2 separate regions of the Homo sapiens genome follow, and region 2 is linked to region 1. Evidence: fine-mapped expression QTL. A gene starts in region 1. The other region holds a variant in brackets. All regions are shown on one strand. Distances are from middle to middle. Region 1 holds the start of SLC2A11 (solute carrier family 2 member 11). Region 2 overlaps SLC2A11 (solute carrier family 2 member 11).

Region 1 (15,811 bases):
CGCTCACGCTGGAGTTCAGTGGCACGATCTTGGCTCACTGCAACCTCTGCCTCCCCGGCTCAAGCAAGCCTCCTGCCTCAGCCTCCCCAGTAGCTAAGATTACAGGCGCCCACCACACACCCGGCTAATCTTTGTATTTTTGGTAGAGATGAGGTTTCACCAGGCAGACCTCAGTTGATCCGCCTGCCTCAGCCTTCCGCAGTGCTGCGATAACAGGCAGGAGCCACCGCGCCCGGCCTGTATTGATTGTTTTTAGTTTGAGCTGCGCTCCTCCCTTGGCAATGTGAGGAAGACCAGCTCTGCCAGCCGGGCTGTAGGGCTGGTGCGGGCACCGGCTTGGCCTCACAGAGCCTCAGGGACTCCCCTCGTAAATGAGGCTGACATCCACATATGGGTGGTTGCACCTAGCACTGCACAGGACGGATGTGAGCACCAGGCTGCTACAAATACAGATATGACTTTCACATGCCCAAGGTTAAACTCCCAGTCAATGTTTGCTGAGGCGAAACCTAGAGCTTCCTGGCCAAAGGATAATAATTAATGTCTGGGGAGCCCACACATGGGGACCTGTCTCCAACGAGATGGGGGTGGCTTTAGGGCATCCAAGAGGCATTTCAAGGAGAATCAAGGGGCAGCCAGGTATTGTTAATGGTGGCCAGGTCAGGATCCAGTCTGGCAGGGTCTTGGATTCAAGGTTAAACCCAGTTCTAAATTTGGGACTTATCCCCAGGCTCGCCCCCAGGCTTTTACTATGTAGACATATATATTCCTACACACATTAGGTACGGTTTTGTATATTTCCAAACAATATACAGGCATAATAGTGTAGGCATCTTTCTGCAACTTTGTTCATGCAGCGTTGTGATTCACACATGTTGATACCGTTCCTCTAGTCTAGTCCACTGATTTTCACTGATGCATGGTATTCTATGGTATTCTACAGCTTATATCTCCTTTTTTTGCATGATTGACATTTGGATAGTTTCCAATTTTCCTATGGTACAAAAGATGCTGCATTTGTGAACAGTTCCTGAGCATGGGATTAAGAGTTTCTCCAAGGTAAACCCAGGAGTGGAATTGCTGGGTGGGAGAGGTATGTGAACTTCAACTTCCTTCATCTGCCCAAATTGCTCTCCAGAGTCATTGCACTGATTTACATTTTTCCTTCCTTCCTTCCTTCATTCCTTCCTTCCTTTTTTTGAGATAGGGTCTTAGTCTGTCACTCAGGCTGGAGTGCAGTGGTGTGAACATGGCTCACTGCAGCCTTGACCTCCTGGGCTCAAGCTTTTTTTCCCACCTCAACCTCCTAAGTAACTGGGACCACAGCTGTGTGGTGTGCCACTGTGCCCAGCTAATTAAAAAAAATAAATTATAGAGACAGGGTCTCACCACATTGCCTAGGCTGGTTTGAAACTTCAGCCTCAAATGATCCTCCTATTTTGGCCTCCTAAAGTGGTGGGATTACAGGCATGAGCCACCACACCTAGTTCCAACTGATATTTTCATCAATAGTACGTGGGTGTTCCAGCTGATCAACACCACCACTTGGTATTGCCAGAATTAAGCTGTTAGTCTGTTGAGTGGGAACCAATATGCTGATGTGGATTTAATTTGCATTTCCTGATTACTAATGTAGCTATCTTTTAATTAGGTTTTTTGGTCATTTCAGTTTCCTCTTCTGTAAATTCCTTGTTCATATCTTTTTTTTTTTTGAGACGGAGTTTCACTCTGTCGCCCAGGTTGGAGTGTAGTGGCACGATCTCGGCTCACTGCAAGTTCTGCCTCCTGGGCTCAAGTGATCCTCATGCCTCAGCCTCCTGAGTAGCTGGGACTACAGGCCAAACCACCATGCCAAGCTAATTTTTTGTATTTTTTGGTAGAGATGGGGTTTAATTTTTTGTATTTTTGGTAGAGACGGGGTTTTACCATGTTTCCCAGGCTGGTCTCGAACTCCTGAGATCAAGCGATCTGCCCCGCCTTGGCCTCCCAAGTGCTGAGATTATAGGCATGAGCCACCGTGTCAAGCCTGTTTGCCCATTTTCTTTTCCTTATTGGTATGTGGGTATTCTATATACATTCTGAATACTAATACTGTGTTGGTCATATGTTGTAGTTACCTTCTTCTACTTGGTAGCTTTAGGTTTCAACTTTTTAAAAAATGCGTATTTTTTTATTTAAAAAATCGAGATGTGGTCTCACTATGTTGTCAGGGCTGGTCTCGAACTCTTGAACTCAAGTGATCCTCCCACTTCGGCCTCCCAAAGTGCTAGGATCGCAGGCTGGAGCCACCACACCTGGCCAGGTTTCACCTTTTCATGGCGTCTTTTGTTTGTTTATTTGAGACAGGGTCTTACTCTGTTGCCCCAGTTGGAGTGCAGTGCTGTGATCACCGATTACTGCAGCCTCAACTTCCCTGGCTCAGGTAATCCTCCCTGAGCCTCAGTCTCCTGGGTAGCTGGGACCACAGGCTCAAGCCATCATGCCCGGCTAATTTTTTGTAATTTTTGTAGAGACGGGGTTTTGCCATGCTGCCCGGGCTGTTCTCAAACTCCTGGGCTCAAGCAATCCACCCACCGTGGCCTCCCAAGGTACTTGGATTACAGGCGTAAACCACTGTGCCTGGCCCATTAATGGTGTCTTTTAACACACAGATTTTTAATTTTAATAAGGTTAAATCCTCATAAGAAATCTGCGTGGTTTATCCTTGTTTAACCCGGGGTTATAAAAGTATTATATATTTCCTTTTTATTTTTATTTTTTGAGATGGAGTTTCACTCTGTCATCTAGGCTGGAGTACAGTGGCGCAATCTTGGCTCACTGCAACCTCTGTCTCCTGGGTTCAGGTGACTCTCCTGCCTCAGCCTCCTGAGTAGCTGGGATTACAGGTGCCCGCCACCACACCCAGCTAATTTTTGTATTTTTAGTAGAGACGGGGTTTCGCCATGTTGGCCAGGCTGGTCTGGAACTCCTGACCTCAGGTGATCCACCTGCCTTGGCCTCCCAAAGTGCTCGGATTACAGGCATTAGCCACCTCGCCCGGCCTTTACATTTTTTTTTATAGAGATGGGGGTCTGCCCATGTTGCCCAGGCTGGTCTTGAACTTATGCGCTCAAGTGATCCTCCTGCCTCAGTCTCCCAAAGTGCTGGGATTACAGGTGGGAGCTACTGCGTCCAGCCTAAAATGTTTGAAGTTAGGTTTTTGCATTAGGTTTGTGTGTACCTGGAATGACTTTTGTATATGAAGTGAGACAGAGGTCCACACTTTTTCCCCATATCATCAACTGTCCTAGCGCCATTTATTAGCCCGTCACTTCCCACTTATTTATTATTATTATTTTTTGAGACGGAGTCTCTCTGTCGCCCAGACGGGAGTGCAGTGGCACGACCTTGGCTCACTGCAAGCTCCGCCTCCCGGGTTCACGCCATTCTCTCGCCTCAGCCTCCCGAGTAGCTGGGACTACAGGAGCGTGCCGCCACGCCCGGCTAATTTTTTGTATTTTTAATAGAGACAGGGTTTCACCGTGTTAGCCAGGATGGTCTCGATCTCCTGACCTCGTGATCTGCCTGCCTCGGCCTCCCAAAGTGCTGGGATTACAGGCGTGAGCCACCGCACCCGGCCACTTCCCACTTATTTCTTAAGGGGGAAAAGGCAATGGTTGTTTTGAAAAAAAATTAACCTGCTCTCCCTCTCCCTCTCCCTCTCCCTCTCCCTCTCCCTCCCCCTCCCCCTCCCTCTCCCTCTCCCTCTCCCTCTCCCTCCACGGTCTCCCTCTGATGCCGAGCCAAGGCTGGACGGTACTGCTGCCATCTCGGCTCACTGCAACCTCCCTGCCTGATTCTCCTGCCTCAGCCTGCCGAGTGCCTGCGATTGCAGGCGCGCACCGCCACGCCTGACTGGTTTTCGTTTTTTTTTTGGTGGAGACGGGGTTTCGCTGTGTTGGCCGGGCTGGTCTCCAGCTCCTAGCCGCGAGTGATCCGCCAGCCTCGGCCTCCCGAGGTGCCGGGATTGCAGATGGAGTCTCGTTCACTCAGTGCTCAATGGTGCCCAGGCTGGAGTGCAGTGGCGTGATCTCGGCTCGCTGCAACCACCTCCCAGCCGCCTGCCTTGGCCTCCCGGAGAGCCGAGATTGCAGCCTCTGCCCGGCCGCCACCCCGTATGGGAAGTGAGGAGCGTCTCTGCTTGGCCACCCATCGTCTGGGATGTGAGGAGCCCCTCTGCCTGGCTGCCCAGTCTGGAAAGTGAGGAGCGTCTCTGCCCGGCCGCCATCCCATCTGGGAAGCGAGGAGCGCCTCTTCCCCGCCGCCATCCCATCTAGGAAGTGAGGAGCGTCTCTGCCCGGCCGCCCATCGTCTGAGATGTGGGGAGCACCTCTGCCCCGCCGCCCTGTCTGGGATGTGAGGAGCGCCTCTGCTGGGCCGCAGCCCTGTCTGGGAGGTGGGGAGCGTCTCTGCCCGGCTGCTCCGTCTGAGAAGTGAGGAAACCCTCTGCCTGGCAACCGCCCCGTCTGAGAAGTGAGGAGCCCCTCCGTCCGGCAACCACCCCGTCTGGGAAGTGAGGAGCGTCTCCGCCCAGCAGCCACCCCGTCCGGGAGGGAGGTGGGGGGGGTCAGCCCCCCGCCCGGCCAGCCGCCCCGTCCTGGAGGTGAGGGGCTCCTCTGCCCGGCCGCCCCTACTGGGAAGTGAGGAGCCCCTCTGCCCGGCCAGACGCCCCGTCCAGGAGGGAGGTGGGGGGGTCAGCCCCCCGCCCGGCCAGCCGCCCAGTCCGGGAGGGAGGTGGGGGGTCAGCCCCCCGCCCGGCCAGCCGCCCCGTCTGGGAGGGAGGTGGGGGGATCAGCCCCCCGCCTGGCCAGCCGCCCCATCCGGGAGGTGAGGGGCGCCTCTGCCCGGCCGCCCCTACTGGGAAGTGAGGAGCCCCTCTGCCCGGCCAGCCGCCCCGCCCGGGAGGGAGGTGGGGGGGTCATCCCCCCACCTGGCCAGCCGCCCCATCCGGGAGGGAGGTGGGGGGGTCAGCCCCCTGCCCGGCCAGCCGCCCCGTCCGGGAGGGGGGAGGGGGGGTCAGCCCCCTGCCCGGCCAGCCGCCCCGTCCGGGAGGGAGGTGGGGGGGGTCAGCCCCCCGCCTGGCCAGCCGCCCCGTCCGGGAGGGAGGTGGGGGGATCAGCCCCCCGCCTGGCCAGTCGCCCCGTCCGGGAGGTGAGGGGCGCCTCTGCCCGGCCGCCCCTACTGGAAAGTGAGGAGCCCCTCTGCCCGGCCAGCCGCCCCGTCCGGGAGGGAGGCGGGGTGGGGGGGGGGGGGTCGGCCAGCCGCCCCGTCCGGGAGGGAGGTGGGGGGGGTCAGCCCCCCTTCCGGCCGGCCGCCCCGTCCGGGAGGTGAGGGGCGCCTCTGCCCGGCCGCCCCTACTGGGAAGTGAGGACCCCTCTGCCCGGCCAGCCGCCCCGTCCGGGAGGGAGGTGGGGGGGACAGCCCCCCGCCCAGCCAGCCGCCCTATCCAGGAGGTGAGGGGCGCCTCTGCCCGGCCGTCCCTACTGGGAAGTGAGGAGCCCCTCTGCCTGGCCAGCCGCCCCGTCCGGGAGGGTGGTGGGGGGGTCAGCCCCCCGCCCGGCCAGCCGCCCCATCCGGGAGGTGAGGGGCGCTTCTGCCCGGCCGCCCCTACTGGGAAGTGAGGAGCCCCTCTGCCCGGCCACGACCCCGTCTGGGAGGTGTGCCCAGCGGCTCATTGGGGATGGGCCATGATGACAATGGCGGTTTTGTGGAATAGAAAGGCGGGAAGGGTGGGGAAAAAATTGAGAAATCGGATGGTTGCCGGGTCTCTGTGGATAGAAGTAGACATGGGAGACTTTTCATTTTGTTCTGTACTAAGAAAAATTCTTCTGCCTTGGGATCCTGTTGATCTGTGACCTTATCCCCAACCCTGTGCTCTCTGAAACATGTGCTGTGTCCACTCAGGGTTAAATGGATTAAGGGCGGTGCAAGATGTGCTTTGTTAAACAGATGCTTGAAGGCAGCATGCTCGTTAAGAGTCATCACCACTCCCTAATCTTAAGTACCCAGGGACACAAACACTGCGGAAGGCCAAGGCCGCAGGGTCCTCTGCCTAGGAAAACCAGAGACCTTTGTTCACTTGTTTATCTGCTGACCTTCCCTCCACTATTGTCCTATGACCCTGCCAAATCCCCCTCTGCGAGAAACACCCAAGAATGATCAATAAAAAAAAAATAAATAAATTAAAAAAAAAAAAGAAAAAAATTAACCTATCAAAATAAAATATCAGCAGTTGAAACTAACAATGTATTAATAACAATAATATTATGACCAAGTTGCGTCTACCCCAAGAATTCAAGAATGGTTTACCATTAGAAAGTTTATTGATGTAACTGATCTCATTAACAGATTAAAGGAGAATACCCATATGATCATCTTAATAGATGCACGAAAAGCATGCAATAAAATACCTATTTATTATAACTGCTAATATTTTGTGTTTTTCCTTAAAAATGCAGTGTTTTTAGGAATTAAAGTTCAGAGCAGCAAAAGTCAAACAAAAACCAAGTCTGAGCAATAGAGCTACTACAGTGCCCATCACAGTGTCTGCTCAGGTGACTTCTTAAGGTCATGTCCAGCTCTATGTTTCTGTGACCACAAATAGCATCTTTGGCAAGTCTAGTTTCAGTTGGTCTTTGTCCAGCTCCTGGATTCCTCCATGCAGGGCCTGAGAAGCCCTGAGGGATAAAAGATTAATCCGGTTCAGTGGACTCTGTGGTTCCTCAACTCCAAGTGCCCCCAGCATAAGTCGGACCTGCCTCTCACGCAATGGATCCCCTGGCGGCAACCCGAGACCGGTTCTCCTACCCGCATTCCGCCAAGTCTCTCGCTCTGCCCAGGACGCACAGATGAGAGCGCTCCGAAGACTGGTGGGTCTATCTTTCGGTCTTTCCTAATTTTCCCGTCCTCTGGGGAAAGGTCGGGGATACCTGAACCAAAGTGTGTGTGTGTGGGGGGGGGGGGGTGTAGGTGGGGCGTGCATAGATGTGCACAACCAAGGGCTTGGCCCTCCGGAGAACGCCCAGGGGCAGTGGCCTCCGAGGTTCTGGCGGCCGGCAGTGGCGACCGGCGCAGGGAATCGCGCAGGGTTGCGGCTGAGGTCAGACCAGCGAGAGACAGAGACCCGCAGACATTTAGTCCAGAGACTGTAGCAAAGGAGGGGGACGAGGGGCCAGAGCCGGAATTTCGGGGGAGGACTTGGGAGCGCGGCGACCAGAGTCGCTTGCTGGCACTTGCGAGGGCGAATGCAGGGGCTTGGCCGAGATGACCTTGGACCAGAGCTCCCTTCCGGCCTGCAGAGATGAGCTTGGGGCTTAGCCGAGTAAGGAGTGAGCGGCTTTTCAGCCTCAGTGCTGCGGCAGAGGCGGATGGAGGATGAACTGGAGCCGTCCTTACGGCCTCGGACGCAGGTGAGCTCCCAGCGGCGGCGACAAACCCCGCGGCGGTGACCCCAAACCCCCCCCCCGCGGCGGCGACTCCCCCCCAACACGCTGGGGCGAACTCCCCAGCACCCCCAGCCCTTCTTAAAAACGCTGAGTCCGCGCATGCGCCTCAGGCGCCCTCCGCGACACTCTAGCGGCTCTGCGCTTCACTGCGCCTGAGCTTGAGTCTCAGGCCTTAGTCCCGGCCATCGTTTAGCGTTGCGCGAACCCTCAGCTGGTGCGGCCGCTCTCAATACCCACTGCGCTTGCGCTACAGCTTCGTCTCGACGGGTTTGCTCCTCTCAAACGCTCACTGCGCGTGCGCTAGCGCCTCTTTCACCACTGGGCGCTGCGCGCTGCCCTTCCCTCCGCGCACAGGCTGCCGGCTCACCGCTTGCTAATGGCAGCCGGGGTCTCCCTGGGACAGCAAGACCTCCGCTCAGGCCCCTCTTTCGAATGCTCCACGCCCTCCTGCGATCTAGAATGGTATGAATTCTCATACTTGCCCAGACCAGGCGTTTCAGATGAGGGATTGCGGACCTGAGTGAACTGCGCAGGTGCAGCCACCTGGGAGGCTTAACTAAGTCGTCAAATGTTCAAAAATATCGTGCTTGTATGTACAGTGGCGTTAGGTGCTAGGCTCAGATGTGCATAGGCAGGTGTTTACGCCCAGGGTCGGCCTGTGGGCCAGAGCAAGGTTGCTGGACCCTGGCATCCCAGCCCCCAGAGATGCTAAATCCTCTGCCGATCAGCCCTGACCTCAGAGGCAGTAAGCCCTCCGAGCGCTGCAATCCTGACTGCTCGCCCCCTCCCGAGACTGTTTCCCACCCCCGCCTCTTTCCTCCTCATGCTCCCTCAGCTCTGACCTGACGTCCTGCCTCACAGAGGGAAAGGGCGCAGCCAGAGGAGAGCGCCCGCACTGCACTGCCCACCGCTTCTAGGGGTTCCTTCCCAATCTGGACTGATTTCTTTAGGTATTTGCATGGCACATTCCCTCACCTCCTTTGTCTTGATTTGCACTTGTATTCCTTGACAGCCTTATTTAAAATAGCACCAACTAAGGTGGGAGGATCGCCCAGGAGTTCGAAGCTGCAGGGATCTAATAGGATCTCACCACTGCACTCCAGCGTGGGCGACGTAGCGAGACCTTGTCTCTAAAAAATAAAAATAAAATAAAATAAAATAAAATAGCACCACCTGGTCCAAACACTTCCTACGCCCCTTCACTGCTTTAAGTCTCTGTAGCACCAGCTGATGTACTATATATTTTGCTTGTTCATTTTGCGATTGCTTGTCTTTCTCTGCTGGAAGGAAAGCTCTGACAGCTCATGGATTTTGTCTGTTGTTCACTGCTGTATCCCAACACCTAGAACAGTAGGATTATTGACCATAATAGGGAGGCAATAAATCTTTGTTTGCTGAATTAATGGTCCCTATCGTAGCTAATGTCTGAATGCTTACCATGACCAGGCACGGTATAGGCAATCTCCATGCATGATCTCATTGAATTCAACGATTTCCTGTAGTCTTAGAGACCTGTCAATATCTCCTGCTACATGAGCTCAGCTGCCATCAAGCACTGTGTTCGCTGCTTCCTTCACATCTGCTGTCTTAAGGGAGCTCTCACTTCCATGCGGCCCCCGTGGAGCTGTAATTTGGCCTCAATGGGACCAGATGCCAGGTTTCTCACCTGGCTTCTTCCTAAGGCTTCCAGCCTTAGAGAAAGTTACTTAGGCCTTATTGGAACTATGGGCAGCCAGGGCCCCTGTCACCAACCTGTCTCCAGACCTATGGCAAGGCCTTCAGCAGGATTCTGCCCTCCAGAGCCACTTCCTCTGCTCCCCCAGCCTCCAGTGCAGTATCTCACTGAATGGTGAAAGCACAGCTGTCTCTTTCCCAGCTGTATCTTGCCCCCCAGCACACTTCCTGGCTGAGATAAACATTCAGCATTTTTTTTTTTTTGAGATGGAGTCTCACTCTGTTGCCCAGGCAGGAGGGCAGTGGCGCGATCTGGGCTTACTGCAACCTCCGCCTCCCTCCCGGATTCAAGCAATTCTGCCTCAGCCTTCTGAGTAGCTGGGATTACAGGTGCCCACCACCAAGCCCGGCTAATTTTTGTATTTTTAGTAGAGACAGGGTTTTACCATGTTGGCCAGGCTGGTCTCGAACTCCTGACCTCAAGTGGTCTGCCCACCTCGGCCTCCCAAAGTGCAGGGATTGCAGGTGTGGGCCACGACATCCGGCCAACACTCAGTATTTGACTAATAAATGAATAAATAGTCCGTAGGTTCTGGAAACTTCAGAAAACCTTAGCCAAACATCCTTCTGTCATGAAAATTGTATCAAAGTTTTCAAAAATAATACATTTAATTCTACAGAACAATTTGCCAGAACAAGAAAGGCAGTATTTTTTGGGGGAAGATATCAACGATTCAATTTTTGTAAAGTCAACTACTTTGCAAATATCTAGGAAAATACCTGAGGGAAGGAGTTAATTGTTGTGCCTTTGGAGGAGTGGAGAACTTTCAGTATATACTGAATTTTCAAAAATCTTAACAAACGTGTCATTTTGTAATTAAAAATCACAAAAGAGTGGGCTGGGTATGGTGGCTCACGCCTGTAATCCTACCACTTTGGGAGGCCAAGGCGAGTGTATCGCTTGAGCTCAGGAGTTTGAAACCAGCCTGGGCAATATGGTGAAATCCCATCTCTACAAAAAAATTAGCCCAGCATGATGGTGTGTGCCTGTAGTCCCAGCTACTTGGGGGGCTGAGGTGGGAGGATCGCTTGAGCCCAGGAGGTTGAGGCTGCAGTGAATCAAGATTGCGACACTGCACTCCAGCCTGGGTGACAAAATGAGACCTTGTCTCAAAAAACAAAACAGAAAATCACCAAAGGAGAAAGATAAATACTTCTGTGAATCCCTAAGACGACCTCAACTACAGGTCGGGTGCGGTGGCTCACGTCTGTAATCTCAGCAATTTGGAGGCTGAGGTGGGCAGATCACTTGAGGTCAGGAGTCTCTACTAAAAATACAAAAATTAGCTGGGTGTGGTGGTGCATGCCTGCAATCCCAGCTACTCGGGAGGCTGAGGCAGGAGAATCGCTTGAACTGGGAGGCGGAGATTGCAGTGAGCCAAGATTGCGCCATTGCACTCCAGCCTGGGCGGCAGAGCAAAACTCCGTCTCTTTTTTTTTTTTGAGACGGAGTCTCACTCAACCTCCACCTCCTGGGTTCAAGCAGTTCTCTGCCTCAGCCTCCCGAGTAGCTGGGATTACAGACGCCTGCCAACACGCCCAGCTAATTTTTTTTTTTTTTTGAGACGGAGTCTCGCTCTGTCGCCCAGGCTGGAGTGCAGTGGCGCTATCTCGGCTCACTGCTAGCTCCGCCTCCCGGGTTCACACCATTCTCCTGCCTCAGCCTCCCCAGTAGCTGGGTCTACAGGTGCCCGCCACCACGCCTGGCTAATTTTTTGTATTTTTAGTAGAGGCGGGATTTCACCGTGTTAGCCAGGATGGTCTCAATCTCCTGACCTCGTGATCCGCCCGCCTCGGCCTCCCAAAGTGCTGGGATTACAGGCATGAGCCACTGCGCCCGGCCAATTTTTGTGTTTTTAGTAGAGATGGGGTTTCACCATCTTGGCCAGGTTGGTCTTAAACTTCTGACATTGTGATCCACCCGCCTCGGCCTCCCAAAGTGCTGGGATTACAGGTGTGAGCCACTGCGCCAGGCCAAGACTCAGTCTCAAAAAAAAAAAAAAAAAAAAAAAAAGAAAATCCCAACTATCCCAACTACAAAGGATGAGGCATCAGGGATGCCTTGGGGAATTCTCCCTCCATCTCTAAGGGTGTTTCACTGTCCTTTTGTGTACCAAGTGTGCATGACTCATGGGTACCCAGCCTAGAAGTAGGCTTCATTATCTGCAGGTCCAGGTAAGGAAGTCACTTAGGATGAGAAAGGAAGGGGAGAGCTGGGATAGGGACCAGGCACCTGGGCCATTTATGCTGCCTCTCTACTACTCATATGTCCCCAAGTCCTTGCACCTGCAGGTCCATGTGGCATCTTCTCTTAGCCTCATTGCAGAACATGCTGGTGGGAGGTAAGAGAGGTGGCTCAGCCCAGATTCCTGGAGCCTGGCCACTCTGTTGGAGAAGGTTTTCCTGGGGCAAGTCAGAGGCTCCTGTCCTGCTGGAGGCAGAGCCTTACTCTACTGGGGCCCCAGCTCAGGGGACTGTCTTCCCCAAACACAGCAGACGTGCTCAGGGGCAGCCCAACAAGGAGGGATGGGAACCGCTCTCCAGCTCAGGGAAATGTTGGGGCTATGGGTGGGGTGAGGGTAAAGTGGGGTCCTGGACTCAGAACAGGAGGCTTGGGTTCCTCTGCTACCTGCCAGCCATGTGACCCAGGTAACTCCTCTCTGTGCCTCACTTTCCTCATCTGCAAAGTGGAGACATCACTGCCTGATTCAAATAAATTGCAATGCTGTGATTGGCAGCTCTGGTCCAGGGAGGGGGTGGAGGCTGTTGTTGGTCACTCTGTGTTCTCTCCTCTCTCCTCAGATTCAGGGCAGGATCCTGCTCCTGACCATCTGCGCTGCCGGCATTGGTGGGACTTTTCAGTTTGGCTATAACCTCTCTATCATCAATGCCCCGACCTTGGTATGTATCCTCTCTGGGTGGAGACTGTCCCTGTCTGAGTGGGTACTGGCTAACAGCTGCCCACTGAGGGGCTTCAGCCAGGCATCCACTAGGTGGCACTTTCTGCCACAAGTTTGTCTCCATTGGGTTGGCCCACAGGTTCCTGCAGGTTCAAACTGAGCATACATCTTCCCCAAACCTGCATGTCCTCCTGAGTCCCTAATCTCAGCAGATGACTCCATCTTCCACCTAGTGATGGGGGGTCAGCCTTGACTCTTCTCTTCATCTCTTGGACACTAAGTCCTTCCTAACTACCTCTGGAATCCAGCCACTTCTCCCCATGTTTCCACCACATTCCCAGTTCTGGCCCAGCCTCCTCACTGGCCTCCTTGCCTTCAGCCTCTCCCCACCTTGATCTCTTCAAGTCACTCCCCTGCTCAGAAATTTTTTTTTTTTTTCGAGATGGAGTTTCGCTCTTGTTGCCCAGGCTGGAGTGCAATGGCATGATCTTGGCTCACCACAACCTCCGCCTACCAGGTTCAAGCGATTCTCCTGCCTCAGCCTCCCGAGTAGCTGGGATTGCAGGCATGTGCCACCATGCCCAGCTAATTTTGTATTTTTAGTAGAGACGGGGTTTCTCCCTGTTGGTCAGGCTGGTCTCAAACTCCCAACCTCATGTGATCCGCCTGCCTCAGCCTCCCAAAGTACTGGGATTATAGGCATGAGACACCGTGCCCGGTCTCATCAATGTTATTTATAAAGTAGCCAGTGGAGATTAAGTTTCCGTGTTCAGCGGTGAAGCCTTGAGCTATCACGGCCTCAGCTTCATGGAAAAAGGAAGAAGAAATTTTAAAAAGCAAGCAGGGCAGGCAGACCTGACCAAATGAACCCCTCGGTTTCACTGTCTCACACCTTCGCTCCCCCAACCCTGATACCAAAGCAAGTTAAGTATAGTTCCTCAAATACCTATGACACAGCCCTTCCTCTAAGCCTCCTTCCACGGAGGGGCCCTCTCTCTTCCACCTGTAGAAGCCCACCCCAGATACCACCACCTTCTTGAAACCTTTTTGCCTCTCCAGCCCTTGGTGCAGGCTGTCCTCTCTTAGGCTGTGTGAGGGCTGTTTTGTGTCCATCTCCTCTCTCCTGCTGGTTTGCTCTCAGCATCTGAGTCATCTTTGAATCTCTGGCCCTTGATGGTAGCCTGGCCCGAGCCAATGTTCTGTGAGTGTCTGTGGAAAGGATAGGTCTTTCAGCCCCAGTGATAGAAGCCCACCTCTAACTTGCTTAAGTAAGAAGGGCAAGTACCTAATCATGTAACTGGGAATGATGGGATGTGGGGCTTCACACAGCACTGAGGGAGAGCTGCAGGAACCAGGCCCCAGGACAGAACTGTGGCTGTCCTGCCCCTGTTTTTTCTCTCTCTCTGGTTTTTTTTTTTTTTTTTTTTTTTTTTGGGACAGAGTCTTGCTCTCTCACCCAGGCTGGAGTGCAGTGGTGCAATTTCGGTTCACTGCAACCTCCGCCCCGTCCCGAGCTCAGGCGCTCAAGCGATCCTCCTACCTCAGCCTCCCAAATAATTGGGACCACAGGCATGTACAACAAAGCCCAGCTATTTTATTTGTATTTTTTAGTAGAGATGGGGTCTCATCATGTTGCCCAGGCTGGTCTCAAACTCCTGAGCTGAAGTGGTCCGCCCACCTCGGCCTCTTGAAGTTCTAGGATTACAGGCATGAGCCACCGTGCCCAGCTTGGCCTTGTTTTCATACCCAGATGGGGAGCTGCTGTCACCAGATTCACTTCCTGCCAGCTGAGAACTCACCCCACCAACAAAAGTCTTCCAGGTTAGCTCATGTAGAAAGGCAGGGAAGAGCCTGAGGGGCTGGTTTGGATTACATGTCCACTCCCAGACCAGTAATGTGGTCAGGAGGCTGGGATGCTCAGATTGGCCAGATCTGGGCCAGGTGATCACCTTTATGGGGAACCAAGGGCTGTAGTTGACCATCGAGAGAACTTCCTCCAAAGTAATATTTGCTAGCAGAAGATAGAGGTGGGGATAGAAAGAATGATAGCAGCCCAGCCTCTTAAAGAAAGGATGAGAGTTTAGAAAGGGAGATCTGAGCTGGCTGCGTTGGTTTATTTTTTATTTATTTATTTTCTGAGACAGAGTTTTGCTCTTGTTGCCCAAGCTGGAGTGCGATGGCGTGATCTTGGCTCACTGCAACCTCCACCTCCTGGGTTCAAGCGATTCTGCCTCAGCCTCCCGAGTAGCTGGGATTACAGGCGCCCACCACCACGCCTGGCTAATTTTTTGTATTTGTAGTAGAAATGGGGTTTCACCATGTTAGCCAGGCTGGTCTCAAACTCCTGACCTCAGGCGATCCGCCTGCCTTGGACTCCCAAAGTGCTGGGATTACAGGGGTGATGCATTGGTTTATTTATTCATTAATTCATCAAGCATTTGAGCACCCACTTCAGTGCACACTCAGACTAGAGAGGGGTCCATCCCAGGCCGGGCAGGGCACTCTCAGACCTTACCTCCCACAGCCATCACCAGCCCCTACGAAGGAGACTTTCCTAGGCTCAGAGGCTTCCCCTACCCTGCTGAATGGTGTTAAGTTCTAATTGTTAAAGAAAAAGTTATTCAGGCTGGGCGTGGTGGCTCATGCCTGTAATCCCAGCACTTTGAGAGGCTGAGGCAGGCGGATCATTTGAGGTCAGGAGTTTGAGACCAGCCTGGCCAACATGATTAAACCCTGTCTCCACTAAAAATAGAAATATTAGCTGGGCATGGTGGCATGTGCCGTGATCCCAGCTCCTCCAGAGGCTGAGGCAGGAAAATTGCTTGAACCCAGGAAGCGGAAGTTGCAGTGAGCTGAGATCTCGCCACTGTGCTCCAGCCTGGGCGACAGGGAGACTCCCTCTCAAAAAAAAAAAAAAAAAAACCAGAAAACAAAACTGGGCGCAGTGGCTCACGCCTGTAATCCCAGCACTTTGGGAGTCTGAGGCAGGTGGATCCCCTGAGGTCGGGAGTTCAAGACCAGCGTGACCAACATGGAGAAACCCCGTCTCTACTAAAAATACAAAATTAACCAAGCATGGTGGCGCATGCCTATAATCGCAGCTACTTGGGAGGCTGAGGCAGGAGAATTGCTTGAACCTGGGAAGCAGAGGTTGCAGTGAGCCAAGATTGCATCATTGCACTCCAGCCTGGGCAACAAGAGCAAAACTCCATCTCAAAAACAAAAACAAAAAACTATTCAATGACACTTGTCAAAGCACAGTAATGAAGACTTTATTCAAGAGGTGGCAAGCACTAGTTGTAGGGACCGTGGCAATGGGGTCCTGCCCTGAGGCAGAAAGGTTGGACTCAACTTCAAATACAGCAATGGGCAAGTGAGAACTGATAGCCAAGGAGCAGAGTGGGGTCAGCGGGTGCACAATGACTAAGAGGATCATCAGGCATTTGTGGGGGATTCTGGTTAAATTGTCCTAACAGGATTCTTGTTGAGGGCAGGCCAGGGTAACTAGACATCATGGAGGATGGCAGAGGATAAGGAGGCCGATTAGATTTTGAGAGTGATCAGATGTGGAGGATGAGGATTCTAGCTAAACCAACTTAGCACGATACTTGCTAAAATTGAACAAGGCAGAGATGAACACAGAAGTCCAAAAGTTGAGACCTAGTTGAAAAAGAGCTCAGAAGGCCGGGTGCA
Region 2 (15,811 bases), 23 kb after region 1:
GATTCTCCTGCCTCAGCCTCCCCACTACCTGGGATTACAGGTGCCTGCCACCATGCCTGGCTAATTTTTGTATTTTTAGTAGAGATGGGGTTTCACCATGTTGGCCAGGCTGGTCTCGAACTTCTGACCTCGTGATCCCCCCACCTCAGCCTCCAAAAATGCTGGGATTATAGGCGTGAGCTGCTGCACCCAGCTGCTGCTATATACTTAAGGCAGATCGGAGGAGGTATATGACTGTTCCAGCAAGGTGAATGCTAAGTGTTTTTGGCAATGTCTGTGTATTGAAATGGAGCAAAATGCACTCACTAGATTGAAGTACTTAATTATTATTAATGGATTTATTAATTCCAGTGAGGAAAATGTATATTATTGTAATTATAATTATTAGTTACAATTGGAGTTACCACTGGATCGAGTTTGTTATAATCTACTGTCATTTTTCATTCTCTAGACACAAGAGACCTAAGCTTTGGCTCATATTTTATCACCAATGTGCTGGTGACTTTGAGCAGAACACTGGCCACTTCTGGTCTTCAGTTTCCCTCTCAGTACAGTGAGCTATATGATCACAGTGAGCTCTCCTGGGTGATCTGTATGGCAGCACTTCTGAGCTCAATATGAGGAGCCAAAGCTAATGCTTCATCATGATGGAGCAGGTGACATTTCCAATGTCCCCTCCTTGGGTTGGTGTCTGTCCCATTGACCAAGGCATTGAGATATACAGCCATTCTGAGTTGTGAGAAGTGACTCTGTAATACATGGAGGAAAATATAAGGAAACTCTACTTGACTATCTATACGTCTCTTCCTTCACTCTTAAAGTCCCTGTTCTTCCTCCCTGGAGTTTTATTGAATCTGAGAAATTACATATTAGTACCTTCATTGTTGCTGTTGAGACAGGGTCTCACTCTGTCACCGAGGCTGGAGTGCAGTGGCGTGATCATGGCTCACTGCAGCCTCGTACTCTTGGGCTCTAGCAATCCTCCCACCTCAGCCTCCTGAGTAGCTGAAATTACAGGCGTGCGCCATCATGCATGGCTAATTTTTTTTTTTTTTTGAGATGGAATTTTGCTCTTGTTGCCCAGGCTGGAGTGCAATGGCGCAATCTTGGCTCACCACAACCTCTACCTCTCGGGTTCAAGCGACTCTCCTGCCTCAGTCTCGAGTAGCTGGGATTACAGGCATGTGCCACCATGCCTGGCTAATTTTGTATTTTTTTTAGTAGAGACAGGGTTTCTCCATGTTGGTCAAGCTGGTCTCAAACTCCTGACCTTAGGTGATCCACCCACCTCAGCATCCCAAAGTGCTGGGATTACAGGCGTGAGCCACCGCGCCCAGCCTAATTTTTTTTGTATTTTTTGTAGAGATAGGGTTTCATCATGTTGACCTGCCTGGTCTCCTGGGATCAGGTGATCTGCCCGCTTCAACCTCCCAAAGTGTTGGGATTAAAGGCATGAGCCACCATGCCCAGCCCAATTTTTACAGATATTTTAAAAATTATGTGTTACAACAGACGTGTAAGTGTAGGAGCTCTCATCTCATTTGACAGCAAGGATACCAGGACTCAAAGTAGTTAATGGCATACTACATACATTTGTGTGTGTGTCTAATTAAGGCTTGTTACAGTTGCAAAGAGTGGTCCCCAGGGATGGTCCCGCTGGACTGAATCACAGCCTCTCTTTCTGTGTGTTTCACTTCCCCCAAGGAAGAAGTCCCTCCTGGTGAATAACATCTTTGTGGTGTCAGCAGCAATCCTGTTTGGATTCAGCCGCAAAGCAGGCTCCTTTGAGATGATCATGCTGGGAAGACTGCTCGTGGGAGTCAATGCAGGTATGGGGTGGGGGCTTCTCATCCTGCCTCTCTATGCCTATTAATTAATAAATTCATTAATTCCTTTTATTTCATTTCTTCCTTCATTTCCTCCCTTTATTCATTCATTTATTTTTTATTTATGCCTACCTTTGTCACAAAAGGATGTAGTATAGTTTATCTTAAAGGGCTCATATAACTAGATATTTAAAGTAGGTACAGAACAATGGAAAAGTTGTGTAGGGGTGGGGGAATAAGCATCTCCAAACTTAACACTAATACAGGTCCCATGTTTGAGTAACACTCTAAGCCATGAGCTTCCTGGTAGCCAACGTGTAAAGGGATATAGGATGAGTTTTCTGATCTTCTCTCAGAAGCAGAATGGCCTGTTAGGTACTCCTCGATTTCTGGGGCTTTTCATGTGAGAGAGCAGAATTTTGAGCACATCCACCTGGGTTTTTAGGGGCTCCAACCAACAAGTCATCTCTTGACGCCCTACTGTTTATACAGCCCAGTGGTGATGTTATCTATATGATGCTATCTATATTAGTTATCTATTTGTGTGAAACAAATAACCCCAAAATTAAGTGACTTAAAATAATCAACATTTATAATCTCACAGTTTCTGTGGGCCAGGAACCCAGGAATGTCTTAGGTAGGTGGCTCTGGCTTGGGGTCTCTGACGGGGCTGTGCTCAAGCTGTCAGGGCTGCAGACATCAGAAGGGTTGGCTGGGGCTGGAGGATCCACTTCCAAGATGCTCCCTCACGTGCCATTGGCAGGAGGTCTCAGCTGCCCACTTTGGGGGGCTCTCCACAGAGCTGCTTGAGGATCTTCACAACATGGCAGCTGGCTTCTTCCAGAGTGATCTGAGGGGGTGAGGAGGGGAGGGAGAGAGAGGGAGACAGGGAGACAGAGAGAGGGCATGCACAAGGAGAAGTCCAGGTGCTTTTTATGTCCTAATTCCAGAGGTCATACACCATTATTCTGCTCATTAGAAGTGAGTTACTAAGAGTAGCCCACGATCCAGGGGAAAGGAACCAGGTCAGACTTTGTCTTCATGTCCCAAGTACCCATCAGAGAAGGAATCCCCAGCTAAATGTTTGTAGGAAGAGCAGGGGCACCTCCGAGACTCCTTGGCAATCAGCATAGCTGCCTTCCTTCCAGTTATCTTTGCCCAACTCGTAGATAGAGGGGCAGGACCTTGATGGGAGAACCCCTAGGTCAGGGAGGGCATACTGCATTCCCAGGGGCGTGACACCACAACACAGTGGCCTCTTAGCTTTTGCCATTTGTCACCCTCTGGGAGGGCGCTGGGGTGCTCTCCAGCTCTCTGTTTTCCTGAGGGCAGTGTAGGTGCCAGGGTCTTCCCTGGGGGAGCCAGGGTGAGGTGAGAGCAGCTGTAGTGATCAATGAAGGAATTGACATGAGTGCTGGGACAGCTGGTAGGCATCCAGGATGTGGTCCTACCTTCCTCCTCCCACCCCCCCGCACAGCCCCGTCAGAGTCCTTCACACTCGGGTCCCAGTGATGGGACCTAGGAAGAGCCCATGAACATGTGGTACTGTGGCCAGGGACCAGGATGGGAGCGGATCTGAGAAAGCCCTCCCTCAGAAGTTCTGAAGAGTAGAGTTGGGATCCTGTTGGCCCTTCATCAGGTGAAGCAGAACCCCTGAGTGTGGGGGGTGAGGGATCAGCCCTCAGTGCCAGGATCCAGTTGAGTGGCTGGACAGTGCTGAGTGGGGCAGGGGAGACAGGCTGGGTGTCGTGGAGTGGGGGTCCCAGCTGGTGGCTGACGTGCCTCTGCTGTGCACACGTCCAGGTGTGAGCATGAACATCCAGCCCATGTACCTGGGGGAGAGCGCCCCTAAGGAGCTCCGAGGAGCTGTGGCCATGAGCTCAGCCATCTTTACGGCTCTGGGGATCGTGATGGGACAGGTGGTCGGACTCAGGTAAGCACCCCTCCCCCACATGCATTGAGTATTTCGGAGATACCAGTAAAAGCGTTTCTTCACCTAAATGTCTCCCCTACCCACTAGTAGATTAAAGCATTATTGCTTTGCATGAAGGCATCGAATCCTCTATCCACATCTCTGCTGCCAATTCACGAAATGGGTATCAGTCAACACACTGCAATGTGAATCACCTTTTCCCATCCTCTCCAGGTCAGGGAGCAAAGAACAGGTCTTCACAGAGGAGAGGGTGAAGATTTGGGCTTTCAAAGACAAACGTGTTCCAGTCATTCCAGAAAAAAGAGGAGAAGGCAGAGCCTGGACCCTTGGGAAGAGGAGTTGCTAGGGATGAGGTGGGGCAGTGGCCCTGTCCTCTCTTGGTCCCAACCTGGGTGGGAGGGATCTTGATGTTCAGACCCAGACTTGGATAGGAAGAGGCACGGGGCAATTGCAGACTCCCTGCAGGGAGGTGTGTAGGTGGGCAGGAGAGCAGGGTGGTAGGACTCTGGCAAAGAGGCATCTGGCCTGGCCTCTCCTCTGCCTCCTTAGGGAGCTCCTAGGTGGCCCTCAGGCCTGGCCCCTGCTGCTGGCCAGCTGCCTGGTGCCCGGGGCGCTCCAGCTCGCCTCCCTGCCTCTGCTCCCTGAAAGCCCGCGCTACCTCCTCATTGACTGTGGAGACACCGAGGCCTGCCTGGCAGGTGAGTCTCTGTCCTTGGGCTCCCAGACTGCCCTTGACCAAGGGATGCATCTCCCCAGAGTATACGGGTCCCCATTTCATAGGTTTCATTTATCAAGGAAAAGCTATCCCTCTCTTTGTGCCTCAATTTCATGATCTGCCTATACCTGCCTTCAATCAGAACTCTATCAAGTGGTTGTCCTAACTGCCAGGCAGCAGAATGGATCAGACCTAGCCACTGTTACTCAAGAACTCCAGAGCGGTGCGGAGAAACACACGCGCACACACACGGTGAAACACCTGTGCAAGACCTCACCTACCCAGTGCCAACTGGGTGATGGTCATCTTATATCAGTTAACTTTGGCTACAGTAAGAATGCCTAAGGAACAATCGCAACATTTCTGCTTTAAAGCAACAATTATTTACTGCTTCTTTTATTCATGTACTTGCCTGGCTGGCTGCACAGCTCTGCTGATCTCAGCTGGGCTAGTTCACAGTGTGGGGCGGGGGAGGGGGGCAGTGGTGAGGTTCAGCTGCTGGTTGGCCGGTCTAGGCTGGTCTGGACTGGAGCCATTCAGCTTTGCTGCACTTTCTGTCCTCTCACTTTTGGTACCAACGAGTTAGCCTAGGAATAGCATGGTGATGGCAGAGAAACAAGAAAGCAAATCCAGTTGCATAAGCGCTTTCCAAACCTTTGGTTCCCTCGTGCCATTAACATTCCATTGGCCAAAGCGAGTCAGTCATACTGCCAAATCCCAAGTCAAGGGATGGGAAAATTGATGGCATATCCTCTCCCATCGCAAGGGCTGTGGATTTAAGGAGGGGTGAAGACCGGGGCCCATTAGTGTACTCTTCTCTGTCACCATGGCCGCAATTATTACTTATGTCTCTCCTCTGTGCAAAATGTGTTCAGTCCCATCCCAGGATCCCCCAAAGTCTCATCCAATCATGGCATCGGGCTTGAAGTCCCAGATCTTACGCCACATTAAGTCTATATGGGCCTTTTCTTGATCCAGAAACCTAGGATCTAGAAAGATGAGTCTTCTTCCCTTCCCACACTCAGCATGCAATGGTAAAAAGTAAGATGAGGTAACCAAAATTAATGCTCTCATTTCAAAAACGAGGAAGCAAGGCAGGCACAGTGCAGTCACTAATCTATAACAATTCTGAAGCGCCCCTAGGAAAATATGGCCATGTCCCCTGCCTTGGGGGTAGGGAGTATTCTTTGTTCAAGTTCCAGCTCTGTCCCCTACCCCCTATGAAGGGCACCCCAGGCCATGGTTCTTTTATTTTTTTTATTTTTTTTATCTTTTAGAGACAGGTTCTCGCTTGTCCAGGCTGGAGTGCTGTGGCTGTTCATAGGCATGACGCCATTGTTGATCAGCACGGAAGTTTTCTTCTTTTTTGTTCTTGTTTTTTTGGTTTTGTTTGGGACAGGGTCTCACTCTGTCGCCCAGGCTGGAGTGGTGTGATCTCAGCTCACTGCAACCTCCACCTCCCAGGCCCAATCAATTCTCCCACCTCAGCCTCCTGAGTAGCTGGGACTACTGGCCCGTGCCACCACGCTTGGCTAATTTTTTTTTATTATTGTATTTTTTGTAAAGATGGAGTTTCACCTCTTTGCCTGGGCAGGTCTCAAACTCCTGAGATCAAATGATCCTCCCCCCTTGGCCTCCCAAAGTGCGTGGATTATAGGCATGAGCCATTGTATCTGGCTAGCATGGGAGTTTTGAACTGTCCCATTTCCAACCTGGGCCAGTGCATTCCTCCTTAGGCAGCCTGGTGGTCCCTGCTCCTGGGATGTCACTATATTGATGCTGAACTTAGTGCAGACACCTGATCTGCCTAGCGTACTACAACCCAGAGCTCCTGGGCCCAGGCGATCCTCCTGTCTCAGCCTCCTGAGTAGCTGGGACTCTAGGCACACACCACTATGCGTGGCTCTCCATGCTTCTTGGGTCTACCCTCTGAGATGTTTTTCCTTTTCTTTCACCTTCCTTGATTCCTTCTGAAGAGGGCGTTGCACAATGTGCTGCTTTTGATGGTTGAGCAAATTTCTCAGCCTCCTTCCTGCCTATAGAGAGTTGGGGCAGGCTGGGCGCCAGCTCACGCCTGTAATCCCAGGGAGGCTGAGGCGGGCAGATCACGAGGTCAAGACATCAAGACCAGCCTGGCCAACATGGTGAAACCCCATCTCTACTAACAATACAAAAATTAGCTGGGTATGGTGGCACGTACCTGTAGTCCCAGCTACTAGGGAGGCTGAGGCAGGAGAATTGCTTGAACCCGAGAGGCGGAGGTTGCAGTGGCAGGAGAATTGCTTGAACCCGAGAGGCGGAGGTTGCAGTGAGCCAAGATTGTGCCAGTGCACACTGCACTCCAGCCTGGTGACAGAGTGAGACTCCATCTCAAAAAAAAAAAAAAAAAAAAGAAAAGAAAAGAAAACAAAGTTGGGGCACAGAAGTCTTTATATTTCAAATTGTCCTGGTCTTTTTTTTGTCCAAACTGGCAGAGCTTTTGCCAATACAACTTTCTCAAAAATGATGTGAATTTTCTATGTATTCGAGGTTTTTTCATGTGTCAACAAACCACGCTCACAATTATTTTTGAGACAGGCTTCTCTCCCAAGGCCTAATTGCTGGTATTTAGGGTATGTCAGGCTACCGTGAATCAACGCCCTCAAGCCTCCTAAATGCCCCCTTTTCTAGTTGTGAGGGTCTGTGAGGCACTGCTTTAAGCTATACCCTTGATTTGATCTTTACTATGAGTCCATGGCTTCCTGGCAGTGCTCTGGATTTGATCTTTGCTCACAGGCTGTTACTTAATTTGGGATTCTTTTGCTAGCTGGAGAGGATAGAGGCGAGAAAACATTTTTTGTTGTTGTTTTCAACTAACCCAGTGTTTCTGAAATATGCTACGTTTAATTAAATTTTGTTGCCTCTGAATTCTGCTTGCAAACTGGCCAGTTATTTTCTGAGCTAATTCTTCATGTCTTACAGCAAGCTTAGAATATGCATCTAACAGCAACCAGTTCATGCTTTCAACATTTGGAGTTTTCTTTGCTCAAGTCCATAAGTTCACTGAGCCCATTTTCTTTCTTCCGTGTTACTGCACTATATAACATAGCTTTTCATTTCTCCAGCCTCATCGCCGTCCTCTGCCTCGTCTTGGAACTGATACCATATTTCACAGGTCTTTGTTACGGTAGCACCAACTCCTGGTGCCAATTTATTGATCAGCTTTCTATTGCTGACTAATAGATGATCATAACATCTCGGTGGTAAAGAAACAAAAAAAGCAATTATTTAGCCTAAGCCTCTAAGTCCTCTGGGCTGGGCTGATCTAGGATGGTTCTGGCTGATGGCTCTGCTGATCTTGGTCATTCCTGCAACTGCAGCTCAGCTGGGCATTGGCTGGCTGATCTAGAATAGTCCCAGTGAGGGTGGCTTAGCTGGGCCCCTTTGGCTGTCCATGTCTTGTCATCCTCCTGGCTAGCCTGGAATGTTCTCATGAAGGCAGAAGAGCAAGTAGAAGTGAGCAAGGCCTCTTAAGGCTTAGGCTGGAACATGGTACGCCCTCACTGCAGCCTCATCCTATTGGCCGAGCCCAGAGCCAGGAGCAGGGATGTAGGCAGTACTTGCCCCTTTAGTGGGAGGAACTGCAAAATCACACAGCAAGCAGTGTGGGTGCAGGGAGGGGTGAAGAATTGGGTTTGATAATGTGCTGCAATAGTCATGTCCTGTCTGATATGTCCGCAGAACCCTGCGTTTCTTTCTAAAGCCTTTTTTCATCCATGGTGGCAACACCGCAACAGCCCTGAGAAATGTCAGGGCAAGGAAGATCATCTCCATCTGACCAGGGAGGCAAACAGAGACAGAGAGATTGAGAGAGACAGAGGCAGAGAGAGAGAAACACACACACACACAGACAGACACAGAGACAGAGAGATTGAGAGAGACAGAGGCAGAGAGAGAGAGAAACACACACACACACAGACACAGAGACAGAGAGATTGAGAGAGACAGAGGCAGAGAGAGAGAAACACACACACACACAGACACAGAGACAGAGAGATTGAGAGAGACAGAGGCAGAGAGAGAGAGAAACACACACACACACACACACACAGAGACAGAGAGATTGAGAGAGACAGAGGCAGAGAGAGAGAGAAACACACACACAGACACAGAGACAGAGAGATTGAGAGGCAGAGAGAGAAACACACACACACACAGAGACACACACAGAGACAGAGAGATTGAGAAAGACAGGCAGAGAGAGAGAGAAACACACACACACAGACACAGAGACAGAGAGATTGAGAGAGACAGAGGCAGAGAGAGAGAGAAACACACACACACACACAGACACAGAGACAGAGAGATTGAGAGGCAGAGAGAGAAACACACACACACACAGAGACACACACAGAGACAGAGAGATTGAGAGAGACAGAGGCAGAGAGAGAGACACACACACACACAGACAGACTCAGAGACAGAGAGTGAGCCAAGAAGGAAAGGAATGGTGGGATGGAGGGGGGCGTCCCTGTAGGGGGACCAAAGAGGGGCTTGGGGACGGGGAGCTCAGTACCCTCCTCCCTGGCTCAGCACTACGGCGGCTCCGGGGCTC[C/T]GGGGACTTGGCAGGGGAGCTGGAGGAGCTGGAGGAGGAGCGCGCTGCCTGCCAGGGCTGCCGTGCCCGGCGCCCATGGGAGCTGTTCCAGCATCGGGCCCTGAGGAGACAGGTGACAAGCCTCGTGGTTCTGGGCAGTGCCATGGAGCTCTGCGGGAATGACTCGGTGAGACCCCTGCCCCGCCGCACACCCTGGGCCCCGGGGGCTTGGTGTTGCAGGCCGCTGGGAGCCATGGGAGGTGGAAGGGAGCCCAGGCCTGAAAGCCACCCTCTCCCAGGTGTACGCCTACGCCTCCTCCGTGTTCCGGAAGGCAGGAGTGCCGGAAGCGAAGATCCAGTACGCGATCATCGGGACTGGGAGCTGCGAGCTGCTCACGGCGGTTGTTAGTGTGAGTCTGGAGGGTGCCCTTCCTCCACCAGCCCTGTGGGGAGGGACCCCCAGGTCCTCTGCATTAAACCAGTTTACACTCCAGCTTATGGTGTTAAAATGCAGTGAGGGGCCAGGTGCGGTGGCTCATGCCTGTAAGCCCAGCACTTTGGGAGGCCGAGGTGGGTGGATCACAAGGTCAGGAGTTCGAGACCAGCCTGGCCAACACAGTGAAACCCCCGTCTCTACTAAAAAATACAAAAAATTATCCCGGCGTGGTGGCGGGCGCCTGTAATCCCAGGTACTTGGGAGGCTGAGGCAGGAGAATCGCATGAACCCAGTAGGTGGAGGTTGCAGTGAGCCGAGATGGTGCCATTGCACTCCAGCCCAGGCAATAGTGCTGAGGTGGGATCAGGAGTTGGAGACCAGCCTGGGCAACATGGTGAAACCCCGTCTCTACAAAAAATACAAAAATTAGCCAGGCGTGGTGGTCTTCGCCTGTAGTGCTAGCTACTGGCGAGGCTGAGGTGGGAGGATCACTTGAGCCTAGGAGGTTGAGACTGCAGTAAACCGAGATTGTGCCACTGCACTCCAGCGTGGGCTGGACCAGTGAGACCCTGTCTCAGCTCAGTGAGACCAGTAAGACCCTGTCTCAATCAATCAATCAATGCAGTGAGTTAGAGAGCATCTATTGAGCATCTACGGTTTGCGGGTCACTTCCAGCACCATTTTGAGATGCGGAAACTGGCTGAAGTTGGGTGATTGATTGACCAAGTTCCTTTGGGAAATTAATAAAGTCACACTGAAGCAATAAACTACCCTCACCTCCACCACCAGCTTTCTCAGGAGACCCCTTCCCATTGCCTGCCCCAGACCTCAGGGACCATGGCTGGGTGTGTGGGTCTGTGCTTTCTGCCTTTGCAGTGTGTGGTAATCGAGAGGGTGGGTCGGCGCGTGCTGCTCATCGGTGGGTACAGCCTGATGACCTGCTGGGGGAGCATCTTCACTGTGGCCCTGTGCCTGCAGGTAGCTGGGGTGGATGAGGGCTGGGGGGTCCAGGCCGGGCTGACTTCCACCTCACCCCCGCCCCGTCCACGGCAGAGCTCCTTCCCCTGGACACTCTACCTGGCCATGGCCTGCATCTTTGCCTTCATCCTCAGCTTTGGCATTGGCCCTGGTGAGTGGGCCCAAGGGGCTCTGGGCATCCATCATCACATAGAAGGAGTGATGGGTGCCTGGGTGCACAGTGGGTGGGTGTGAATGCAATGTCCCCTGCAGGCCCTCAGAGACCACCTCATGCCGGGGCTTCTGGGAGGGAATGGCAGGAGGAGAGCACTGAGGGGCCCCCCATACAGACTGGGCCTGGGCTCCCACTCCCATGTCTGGGCTGGGGTCGGGGAGAGGCAGGCAGGGAACCCTGGCCAGCAGCCCCCTGTCCCTGCCCCTCCTTCTAGCCGGAGTGACGGGGATCCTGGCCACAGAGCTGTTTGACCAGATGGCCAGGCCTGCTGCCTGCATGGTCTGCGGGGCGCTCATGTGGATCATGCTCATCCTGGTCGGCCTGGGATTTCCCTTTATCATGGTAGGCCCGCCCCTCCCGCTGGGGGCCCTGCCTTAGGCTGTGTCCCTGTCATCCTGAGAACCCCAGGGGGAGGCTTCCATCCAGGGAGACTGAGACTGAAAGGGAGGGGTCTTAGGGGAGCAAAGAGGGGGGCAAATGCCTCCTCACGACCTGTCATGGGCCTTCTGTTTAGGGGTTGATGGAGACACACCAGGTCTTGGGGTCTTTTTTAATCCGCAGGAGGCCTTGTCCCACTTCCTCTATGTCCCTTTCCTTGGTGTCTGTGTCTGTGGGGCCATCTACACTGGCCTGTTCCTTCCTGAGACCAAAGGCAAGACCTTCCAAGAGATCTCCAAGGAATTACACAGACTCAACTTCCCCAGGCGGGCCCAGGGCCCCACGTGGAGGAGCCTGGAGGTTATCCAGTCAACAGAACTCTAGTCCCAAAGGGGTGGCCAGAGCCAAAGCCAGCTACTGTCCTGTCCTCTGCTTCCTGCCAGGGCCCTGGTCCTCACTCCCTCCTGCATTCCTCATTTAAGGAGTGTTTATTGAGCACCCTTTGTGTGCAGACATGGCTCCAGGTGCTTAGCAATCAATGGTGAGCGTGGTATTCCAGGCTAAAGGTAATTAACTGACAGAAAATCAGTAACAACATAATTACAGGCTGGTTGTGGCAGCTCATGACTGTAATCCCAGCACTTTGGGAGGCCAAGGTGGGAGGATCAATTGAGGCCAGAGTTTGAAACCAGCCTAGGTAACATAGTGAGACCCCCTATCTCTACAAAAAATTTTAAACATTAGCTGGGCATGGTGGTATGTGCTAACAGCTCTAGCTACTCAGGAGGCTGAGGCAGCAGGATCACTTGAGTCCAAGAGTTCAAGGTAGCAGTAAGCTACAATCACACCACTGCATGCCAGACTGGGTGACAGAGGGAGACTTCATCTCTTTAAAACATAATAATAATAATTACAGACTCAGGAAATGCAGTGAAAGAAAAATACAGGTTGGCCAGGTGAGGTGGCTGATGCCTGTAATCCCAGCACTTTGGGAGGCCAAGATGGGAAGATTGCTTTGAGACCAGAAGTTTGAGACCAGCCTGGGCCACATAGTAAGATCCTGTTTCTACCAAAAAAAAAAAAAAAAAAAATTAGCTGGGTGTGGTGGTACATGCCTGTGGTCCCAGCTACTCAGGAGGCTGAAATGGGAGGATCACTTGAGCCTGGGAGGTCGAGGCTGCAGTGAGTCCTAATTGAGCCACTGCACTCCAGCCTGGACAACAGAAAGAGACCATGTTTCAAAAAAAATAAATACAGGTTGTAGTGGGTATGGGTATGCATACCAGGAGGCCCGACCTCGTCTGAGAGGGGAGTGGTCAGAAAAGAATTTTCTGAGGAATTGATGTTTTTAATCAACTTTATTGAGGTATAATTTATACATAACCAACTGCATCCATTTTAAGTATATATTTGGCGAGTTTTGAGTTCTAAGTATAGTTTTGGTGAGTGTATACACTTGGGAAACACCACCGTGATCAAGATGGAACCTTTACCCTACCCCAAGGCACCCACATGCCCATTTGCTATCAGTAACCCACCCCAGTCCCAGACCTGGGGAACCACTGACCTGCTTTCTGCCTCAATTGGTCAGATTTGCCTTTTTTCAGAATCTGAAGTCATTCCGTACTGTATGTACACATTTGTGTCTGGCTTGGCTCCAGATAAAGTTTTTGGGATTCATGAATGTTGTTGCACGTATTAGGAGAGACTCCTTTGTATTGCTGAGTAGTATTCCCCTCTGTGGTTAGACCATGATTTATTTATCCATCTACCTGTTGGTGAACATTTTGGCTGTTTCTAATTCTTGGCCATCATGAATAAAACTGCTGTGAATGTTCCTACAATAATAATTGTCTAAACATATGTTTTTATTTCTTTTGTGTCTTAGTCCGTCGGGCTGCTATAACTAAGAACCACAGCCTGGGTGGCTTATAAACAACAGAAATTTATTTTTCATGGTTCTGGAGGCTGGGAAGTCCAAGATCAAGGTGCCAGTGGATTCAGTGTCTGTTGAGGGCCCATGTCTTGATTCATAGATGGCGGTCTTCTTGCTGTGTTCTCCTAGACATGGCAGAAGGGGCAAGGGAGCTCTCTGGGGTCTCTTTTATAAGGGCACCAATCCCATTCATGCAGGCTCTGCCCTCATGACCTAATCACCTCCGAGGAGGCCCAAAGGCCCTACCTCCAAGTACCATCATATGAGGGATTAGGTTTCAAGGTATGAACCTGGGGAGGACATAAACAGTCAGTCTAGCTTTTTGGGTAAATGAATTGCTGGGCTTAATAATAAATGTATATTTAACTGTATAAAAATTGTTTTCCAAAGTGGTTGATTATATTGTTTCACATTCTCATTAATAATGTATGAGTTCTGGATACTCCAGATCCTCATCAGCACTTGGTATTGTCAGTCTCTTCAATTTAGCCATTCTAGTGAGTGTGTAGTGGTATCTTGTCATTTAATTGTGGTATTTCCCTAATGACTAATAATGTTTGACATCTTTTCATGTGCTCAGTATGGCCATTTGTGGGTTTTCTTTTATGAATAATTTGTTCAAATATTTTGTCTACTTTTTTTTGTTGTTGTTGTTGAGACAGGGTTCTCTGTCGCCCAGGCTGGAGGGCAGTGGAATGAACTCAGCTCATTGCAACCTCTGCCTCCTGGACTCAAGCGATCCTCCCACCTCAGCCCCCCAAGTAGGTGGGACCACAGGCGTGAGCCACCATGCCCTGCTAATTTTTGTATTTTTGGTAGAGATGGGATTTTGCCATGTTGGCCAGGCAAGTTTCAAACTCCTGACATCAAGTGATCCACCCACCTTGGCTTCCCAAAGTGCTGGGATTACAGGCATGAGCCACCGCACCCAGCCCTTATCTGCTATTTTTATCAGGTTGGTTGTCATTATTTTTTAAATGTGGGCATTTTTTATACATTCTGGAAGCTAGTACTTTGTTAAATATATAGTATTGTAAATATTTTCCTGCAGTCCGTAGCTTGCCTTTTTTATTTTCTTAATGCTACCTAAGAGCAGAATTTTTTTTTTTTTTTTTTTTTTGGAGATGGAATCTCGCTCTGTCACCCAGGCTGGAGTGCAGTGGCGCGATCTCGGCTCACTGCAGCCCTGCCTCCTGGGTTTAAGCAATTCTCCTGCCTCAACCTCCTGAGTAGCTGGGACTACAGGCACGTGCTGCCATGCTCTGCTCATTTTTTTGTATTTTTAGTAGAGACGGGGTTTCACCATGTTGGCCAGGATGGTCTTGATCTCCTGACCTCGTGACCTGCTCGCCTCGGCCTCCCAAAGTGCTGGGATTACAGGCGTGAGCCACCTGGCCCGGCCGAACAGAAATTTTTATTTTGGTAAAGTTTGATTTATCAGTTTTTGGTTTTTGTGATTCATGCTTTTTGTGCCATAAGATATCTTTGCCTATCCCAATGTTGCAAAGATTTTCTTCCAAATGTTGGATAGTTTTAGCTTTTACACTTATGTTGCTGATGATGAATTTCAAGTTAATTTTTGGGTATGGTGTGAGGGGCTGAGGTTCCTTTTTTTTGGGTGGGTGGGGGGAACAGGGTCTCACTGTGTGTTGCCTAGACTGGAGTGCAAGTGACGTGATCTCAGCTCACTGCAACCTCTACCTTCCAGACTCAAGCAATCCTCCCACCTCAGCCTCCTAAGTAGCTGGGACTACAGATGCGTGCCACCATGCCTGGCTAATTTTTTTTTTTTTTTTTTTGAGATGGAGTCTTGCTCTTTCGCCCAGGCAGGACTGCAGTGGCACTATCTCGGCTCACTGCAACCTCTGCCTCCCGGGTTCACGCCATTCTCTTGCCTCAGCCTCCCGAGTAGCTGGGACTGCAGGCGCCCGCCACCGCGCCCGGCTAGCCTGGCTAATTTTTGTTTTGTTTTGTTTTATTGTTTTTCTTTGTTTTTTTGTAGAGACAGGCTTTTGCCATGTTGTTCAGACTGTTCCTGAACTCATGGACTCAAGCCGTTCGTTTGCCAAAGTGCTGGGATTACAGGAATGAGTCACCATGACTGGCCCTTTTTTCTTTTCTTTCTTTTTTTTTGAAATGGCTATCTGGTCGTACCAGTACCATTTGCTTTAAAAAAAGCCATTTTTTCTTCATTATTTTACTTTGGTGCCTAAATAAAGAAAATCAGTGGACTATTGTTGTATAAGAAAGAATTTGGCTTTTGTCAGGAAACAGTGACTGTTAAAGAGAAGTGGTGGGGCTGTGGGTTCTCTGGGGAGAGAGAAATCTCTGGGTCAGGGTGTCAGTAGAGGTCTCAGGGAGAAGGTGACTCTGAGCTGGCTTCCTAAGGATAGGCTCAGCTGGGGGCCTTTTAAAAGCTAGAGCCTTGGTGGCATGTGCCTGTAGTCCCAGCTACTTGGGAGGCTGAGGTGGGAGGATCTCTGGAGCCCAAGAGTTGGAGATTACAGTGAGCTATGATTGCACCAGTGCACTCCAGCCTGGGCCACAGAGCGAGGCCTTGTTTCTACCAAAAAAAGAAAAAAAAAAAAAAAAAAGCTGGAGCCACTGGGAGGCAGCAGCGTTGCAGGATGGGAATGAAGCTACCGTGTCCAGTCACTGTGGAGTCTTCAGGAGGCAGGGGCAGCCCTCCCAGGAGCCCTGTGTGTGGTCACTCTGCCCCTCTGTGTCCATCCACCCTGATCCTGCCTCTGTTGACCTGCTCCCCAGCTTACCTTTGTGCTCCAAATGGCTTCCCTGGCCGCCCTGGCTGCAGACCTCCAACG

The links.
Region 2: its variant is fine-mapped to the expression of SLC2A11 in nasal epithelium (TOPMed, PIP above 0.99).

The regions. Positions count from the first base shown.
Region 1 is chr22:23,850,084-23,865,894 of GRCh38, forward strand. SLC2A11 (solute carrier family 2 member 11) reads left to right here and starts at 7,792. Exons shown (of 12, transcript NM_001024939.4): 1 at 7,792-7,946; 2 at 12,021-12,119. The coding sequence starts at 7,917.
Region 2 is chr22:23,873,413-23,889,223 of GRCh38, forward strand. SLC2A11 (solute carrier family 2 member 11) reads left to right here. Exons shown (of 12, transcript NM_001024939.4): 4 at 1,705-1,829; 5 at 3,630-3,759; 6 at 4,309-4,457; 7 at 9,047-9,234; 8 at 9,347-9,457; 9 at 10,360-10,461; 10 at 10,537-10,612; 11 at 10,890-11,017; 12 at 11,237-12,900. The coding sequence ends at 11,437. It also overlaps the pseudogene RN7SL268P. Among named protein-coding and RNA genes, the nearest start is that of MIF, 13 kb to the right of the region's middle. RefSeq lists an enhancer at 14,950-15,244. The variant C/T (reference allele first, on the strand shown) is at 9,069.